2 linked regions of the Homo sapiens genome follow. The protein of the gene in region 2 purifies or fractionates together with the protein of the main gene of each other region. This does not show direct contact. Each region holds a gene or a part of one and is shown on either strand. Other genes may lie near its edges.

Region 1 (3,825 bases), on a different chromosome or scaffold from region 2:
GAGCCACCACACCCGCCCAGCCTACATGTACCAATTTTAAACAGCCAAAAAGCTAACTACGGTAAATAACTACAGTAAATATAGGCCCAAGCCAATATTTTAGAGATAGAAGGAACAGACACCCAGTCCAACATTTGTTTTCTCATTTACATTTACCTACATAATGTCTAAAACAAGAAATCCATAAACTACATCAGTAACATGCAACACTTTCCATTTATATCATCTTTATGTACTAAAAACACTCCATGAATATTAAAGATTGGTATTATCAAAATCATCCAATAGACCAAAATCTAGAGAAGTGGTATGTTTACATACAAACCAAGTCAAACAACAGTAGTTCAAAAGAAAAAACCATACTAATAATTTACCAATTGTATGGGATATTGTCTGCACTGTTAAAAATCCTAAAATTGATTTAATTCTAGTTTTGTTAACATAGCTATCCTTCTGAGAGGATCCTTATTATCTTCGTAGCTGTAGGGCAAATCTCAAAGAAGTCTAGAGCTGATATCAGTGTTCCATATCCTCACATCCAAACTACTCACACTCAGCAAAAAAAATAAATTGTGAGGAGCTAATGGACAAAAAGACAGAAACCATATATACATCTCCTTTCAGACTTTAAAGTATTTTCAGAAAACAGATTTTCAAATCATGCAATCCCTGTCAGATGTCCAATTTATACAGCTGATGTGAAATTTATTTGAAGCAATCCAATAATTCCCAGCCTTTCAACAAATCTTTACGGTCCCCTATGACCTAGCACTGAACTCATCACTGGCACACATACCAACTCGATCCTTGAGAAGCCTGACTTGGAAGGTGAGAAAAAACAAATACTAAAATAATAATCAACAGTAATAAACAAATAAATATACAAACAAATAATGACAAAGAATGACCATCCTATGAGGAAGAAAGGAATAGGAAGAAAAGGGGAAGAGATACCTAAATGGCCAGCCAGCAAGCCCTCTCCAAAGAGGGAACATTTAGGCTGAAATGAGTGGCAAGTGCTGGAATGTGAGCTACTCCCGAGGAGAAAGAGTGGTACACGGAGAGGATCTCCTGGATGCAGTGGGTTAGGGGAGAGGAATCCCAGAGAAAACCCACATGTCTGGGACCAGGTCCTTGGGGGCCTTGATCCAAAGTTCCTTTCCCATCAACACTTCTTTTCACTTTCTACTATCTGGATCAGAATTGACAGTTTTTACATAAGGTCTAAGGCATACAAAAGGATTTTTATCTTTCTTATGCAAATTGTCCAAGAATTACTTATCACCACGGGTATGTCTTAGTGTGAATGAGTGACTGATGTAGTTTGGATATTTGTCCCTTCAGAACCTCATGTTGAAATCTGATCCCCAGTATTGGAGGTGGGACCCTGTAGGAAGTATTTGGGTCATGGGGGTGGATCTCTCATGAATAACCGATTTGGTGCTGTCCACACAGTAATAACTGAGTTCTTGCTCTATTTGTTCACATGACAGCAGGTTGTTTAAAAGAGTATGGACCTCTCTCTCGCCTGCTCCCTCTCTTGCCCTGTGACACAAATGCTCCTCGTTTGCCTCTCGCCATGACTGGAAACTTCCTGAAGCACTAGCCAGAGGCAGGTCCCAGTGCCATGCTTCTTGTACAGCCTGCAGAACCATAAGCCAAATAAACCTCTCTTCTTTATAAATTACTCAGCCTCAGGTTTATACCAATGCATAATAGACTAATGCAGTGACAATGTAAATAACACACATATATTTGTGTTAAGTTCTTATGAGCACCATCCTCCTTGATTTCTACAACAATCCTACGAAAAACAGACTGTTCTCATCTCCATTTTATATTCCAAGAAGCAGGGTTACCAAAGAAATGTTACGTGCCTTCAAACCCTATACTCAACTACTATGGGCTAATGGGGGCTTAAATATGGGTAAGACATAGTCCTTGACCTCAAACAGCTGATATTCTAGTGTAGCAGAAGAGAGCAGATGAATTTAAAAAATAATTAGAAGATTTGTTAAAGTCATAACCGTGGCTTAAATAAAACATTACAAAAGTTCAAAGGAAGAAAAATTATTCCCAGATGGGGAGACAAAAGTTTCGACCAGTGTTTTTGATGGTAGTAGCATAGTAGCATCTTATCTGACAGCTTAAATTACCAAAAGAAAGGCATTTCAATTAGAGGAAACTGTAAGCAGAACACAGAAGTGGAGGGGTAAAGTCCACTCAGCAAACAAATCGGTTTTACAGCTCTGGAGCTTACAGCAAAATAGAATGGCAGACCAGCTTCTGGTATGAAACCAGCCTCTTGGGTTCACACTCTGCCCCCTCATAGATCTCTGATCTTGTACAAGCTACTTAATCTTCCTGAAATGACATTAGTTTAGCCATAAAATAAGAATACTACTATCTAACTTATAGGTTTGTCATCAGGATAAAATGAAATTATGTGTGTAAAATATAGTGTTTATTGCTAGCATATATAATACACTCAATTACTCAATAAATAATCTTTATTACTGAATGTTACCAACAAGAAAAGAAACAAAGACAAGACTTTGAGGATACTGTTAATGTTAGAAATGCAAAATGCTCGTTCCCTGGTGCTGCAAAGAAATAGCACTCGAACATAAATTTAATTTTCTCAGCAAGGCAATTTTTACTTCTATAGAAGGGTGCGACTGGCAAATGGAGTAATGGAGAGAGCACACCTGCACAGGGGAGGGGAAGGAGTTCTTATTTCTGACACAGGGCCCTACTAGTGTGTCGTTCCCCTATTGACAATGGTTGGACCACACAGTCTAAGCTAATTCCGACTGGCTATTTTAAAGGGAGCAGGCATATGAGCCAGAGTGGCAGGGTGACTAGTCTAGCAGGAAGGACAGTTAGGAACAGGTAACTAAAGATGACTTAGGTCAAAGCAGGTGACCAGGGGTGACTCAGGTCAAAGAAGGTGACCAGGGGTGAGTCAGGATGGAGCAGGTGACCAGCGAACAGATGTGAAATACTGATTAGGACTGGTGGGAAAGTTGTTTACTGAAACCAGAGGCAAGGGGGAGAAGAGAACCAGGAAGTTAAACTTTAAAATGGAGAATCGAAGAAGAAGAGAGCTGAACACACTGACATACTGATTCTTTGAGGAAAAACTTGGGGTTCACTATATTTAACATTAATAAGAGACAAGTTAAGGAGAAAAATTAGCTTGGGGAAGGGAGCTAAGTAAGTAGTTTCGTTTTATATACGTTGAGTTTTCAGCTCCATGGGGTATTCAATTATAGCACTTAAAATGTACTGGAATTTGTTTCCATTGTCTTTTCCTCATTAGAATTAGGCATTTAAAAGTGATGTGGAAATGGCAGAGATGGTTTAGGAGCAGAGCATTAATAGAAATTTAGACCAATGATGGAACTTTAAACATTTGCCTATAGTTAGGGGTCAGGAAGCAGAAAAGGAGAAAGAAGACCAAACAAACAAACAAACAACAACAAATGTAGGAAGAAACTAAATGAATTCAATGTCCCAAAACCTCTTTACAAGGGAAAGGAATTTCAAGACTTGGCAGCATGTGTGTGGTACACAAGTGTGTATACAACATTTACATACTTTTTGTAAAATGTATTTACGCATTTTTTAAAAATAAAAAATTAAACTTCATCTTTAAAATATAAAAATATTATGATTTTCAAAATTAAGCAAGCATTTACTAAAAGTATAGCCCCTATAACACTTCCTCAGTATTTTCCCTAAATGAATCATGACAAGGAAGACAAACACATAACTATAACGATTTAATAAGTATTACTAGTGAGACAGAAACAAAAGGGAATA
Region 2 (3,825 bases):
CTTATTACTTGGAGTGTGGTCTACGGACCCACCGCACAGTATCCCCTGGAATTTATTAAAAATATGGACTCTCATGCCCACCCCAGACCTTTTGAATTAGAATGCACATTTTAACCAGCTCCCCAGCTCATTCATGTGTGCATTCAAGTGTGAGAGGCACTTGTTTAGGGAGCTAGTCTGGGTTCTTACCTACCAAGCATAACACTGTTCCTTTGACAAAATGTACACCAAACTCTGAATAAGAAATGTATTAGGAACTGCTTTTATCCCTTGCACACAATTCCAAAACAAATTGGGAACACAGTGTCATACAGCCTCAACCATGTATCCAGTACACAGCAAAAACTGTGAGATAAAGATGCTGTTAATGAAAACATCAGTGAGCCACTGAATCCCTCAATGCGTCCAGTGTGCTTTCAGTGAACCAGCACCCAGAAACAGTGAGCTCTGGGGTTGGCAGCACCATGACAGACCACACATGGTATAAAGGAAGCTCTTAAATGGTGAATAAGTCTGTGTTGGAGATCCCCTGGGGTCTGGAGTAGGCGGGAAAAATCAGAGTTTCTGCGTCTGGGCTCCATTCCCAGGCAGATCTCAGAGCCAGGGCTTTCAAAACAGATCTGTGGCCCTGGGCCAGCTGACAACCAGCAGCGCATTTGCGTCCTAAAAGCACACTGGGGAATTCGCAAGCAGAGGCCCCGGGCCTCCCCGCTCCCATGCAGGTGAAGTAAAAATGGAAGGAACAAACCATCTAGGAAACAAGATTAGGGCCTTGCTCTGCCAGCTGAAACCATTAAAATGCAGGGCCAGCAGGACAGAGCTAGAAGCAGGGCCAGGACCTCTGCCCAGGGAAGGGTGGTCACAGTGAAGGAAGCAGGCATACCCCTGAGGTTACCATAATCAGAGTCTTCCCAATGAAAAGGAGTGGGCTCTTCATCCAACTGCTGCTCAAAATACTCTCATCATTAGCAGAGGGGGCAGTAATACAGCAGCAGCTTCTGCTCATCAATGGTTCATATGCCTGGCAGAACTGAGCACAGCAAGGCAGGTAATTCAATCTCATTTCACAGATGAAAAATAAAGATGAGGCTCCAAGAGATTAACAGCTTTGTTCCAGGCCACACTGCTATAAATGACAGAGTCAAGACTTAGAACCAAGCCCATTGACTTCCAAAGCTCACACTCATTACACTATGCCCCAGTGGTACAAGCAAATGCACCCAGGTCAGTCCCAGGCCCATTCATTCTACAGGTGAGGAGGCTAAGACCAGACAGCACTAAAGTGACCTGGCCAAGGTCCCACAGCTGGGCCAGAACAAGTGATACTTCCCCTCCTTCCTCAGGAACAAGGATGGTTATGGGATAATGGAGGAACAAAATGTTCAGGCAAATCTCAGACGGCTATAAATATTCAGGTTTAGAAGTCGAATGAGATGAGGGTAGCTTGGTTAACTATAGCCAAAGTGCCAATGCAAAGACTGGTCAACCATATACAGTTTGTCACTTGTGCTCACAGCTAAACCCTCCAAGTCTTCTGAAGCATCCACAAGTGACTGGAAGGGACTTCTCTGACATGCCAAGTTGACCTACCTAGTTCATGATAAAATTACCAGAATACCTTCCTTACTAGCTGCCAGCTAATCTGCTTACCCAAAATGTGTAAAACACATTTTCCATATTGCAGGTTTTTTCTCTCCCTTTCTCCTCTCAATTTTGTTTTTGCCTTTATTTAACTCTGTCTCCCAACTGACTTCCTCATATATGATAAAACAACGTGCGTGAAATAGCAAATGAATGTCTCCAAGTTATTCTTTGATACGGACCCAGTGATTTCACTAAAGTATCTTCAAGGCTGTGCCAAAGTCCTTCCAAGCAAAACTTGCTGTGTGGCTCTAAAGGAAGGCCTGTCTGCTAGGTGTTCTCCTGTATCACCCCCTCCCATAGGTCTGTCTGCACGTAAAGAATGATCAACCACACCTACTGCACCTCTGTTGCCTCTTTCACACTGGTCAAGCCATCCGTGTCTGGCCTCAAGACCTCCTGGTCCCTTATCACCTCTTTTTCTACCTCATCTACCCTCTGCTCCAACCTTGTAGCCACTCATGTCCCACAAAATGCATCCTCCACATTCCTGCCATGGTACCCTACGGGAGCTTGGATGTCCTTCCTCCACCTAAAAGGGTCTTCTACCTCCTAGCTCCCCTGGCAGCAAGATTCACCCTCTCCTCTGGATTCCTCTCTAGCTTTTTTCTTTTTTTTTCATTTCCCCCTTGGTCTCTTACATGAAATAACAATCTCCTGAGGACAGGAATCATGCCTTATCAATCTGAGCTAGTAAATGTGTTTTCAATGCCTGAGATCTTCAGGAAATAAAAAAAGCAGAAAAAGTTCCTACCCTCAGAGAGTTCAAACTGATTACAGATCTGACATGTTGGTATGGAAAAATCTACAATCCAATAGAAGTCTTGGAGAAAGGAACAAGGGAGAGTAACTCCTCAGTGAGTATATAGTTTCCTTCTGGGATTGATGAAAATGTTTGGAAATAGATAGAAATGATGGTTGGACAACATTTTAAACATACTCTGCCACTGAATTGTACACTTTAAAATAATTAATTTTATGTTACATGACTTTAACCTAAATACAAATCATGAATACAGGTTAAAAAAATAGAAATCAGATCTAGTACAGATACATAGTACAGATATATAAAATTCTGTAATAAAATCATGTCATGGTAGATCTTGTTTTTGCCTTGTTTCTTCACTCCATTTTTAATTCCCTCATATGCAAGAAAATATTCACTGAAAATAACTAACTGAACATCTGTAAGTTATCCTTTGACAGGAAACAGATGGTTTCATTCAAGAAAGAACAGAAGAGTTCCAAAAGCTTAGGCACTGAAAACAATGTGTCAGGTCCTCAAAAAGCTAAATATAGAGTTACCCTATGACCCAGCAGTTCCATCCTAGGTATATGCCCAAGAGAACTGTCCACACAAAAACTTGTATCCAATGCTCGTAGCAGCATTACTCATAGTAGCTAAAAAGAGGTAACAACCCAAGTGAGCATCAACTGATGAATGGATAAACCAAATGTGGTCTATTGAAACAATGCAGTGTCATTCAATCATAAACAGGAATAAAGTACTGAGACATGTTATAATATGGGTGAACTTTGGACACATTTTGTGACAACAGGCACAAATGGCCACATCGTTTATGATTCCACTTATATACAACTTATAATAGGTAAATCCATAAAAACAGAAAGTAGATTAGTGGTTGCCAGAGATTGGGGGGAGGAGGAAATGGGAAATGACTGCTAACTGGCATAAGGTTTATTTTGGGAAGGATAAAAATATTCTGGAATTAGATAGTGATAATGGCTATATCACTTTGTGAATTACACTAAAAACCACAAAACTGTATACTTTAAAAGGGTAAATTTTACGGCATGTAAATTAGATTTCCATTTAAAAAATTTTTTTTAAAACAAAATAAAAAATCACTAAGGCTCCAACTAAAGACTGAGAGCATCAAACCCTCTGTGTTTCCCTCTCTGAACTCTCATGTGGGTGAAGGCTTCTAGACATGTAGATTTTCCGAAGGCCAACTGGTCTCCTTCCTTATCAGTCCCCAAACATGCAGGAGGCACACAAAGACCTTGAGGTGGTGGTGGTCACAGGAAGGTCTACTGGTACACATCACCTTCTCCAATCATTCCTAGCACAGCATTTTGTGCGTCATCTCACCCAGTGGTGTTCAAATTATGCTCCTGGGTTTTCCCAGGGCTGATGGGTTTCCTGGGACATGGGGATGTCAG

The links.
Region 1: the proteins of FRMD3 (region 2) and LMBR1 purify together in Homo sapiens (affinity purification with mass spectrometry; one large-scale study listed by BioGRID and IntAct). This does not show direct contact.

The regions. Positions count from the first base shown.
Region 1 is NC_000007.14:156,757,098-156,760,922, forward strand, and holds part of LMBR1 (limb region 1 protein homolog), read right to left. Parts: intron 1-3,825. UniProt on the Homo sapiens protein: Putative membrane receptor.
Region 2 is NC_000009.12:83,304,348-83,308,172, forward strand, and holds part of FRMD3 (FERM domain-containing protein 3), read right to left. Parts: intron 1-3,825. UniProt on the Homo sapiens protein: Putative tumor suppressor gene that may be implicated in the origin and progression of lung cancer.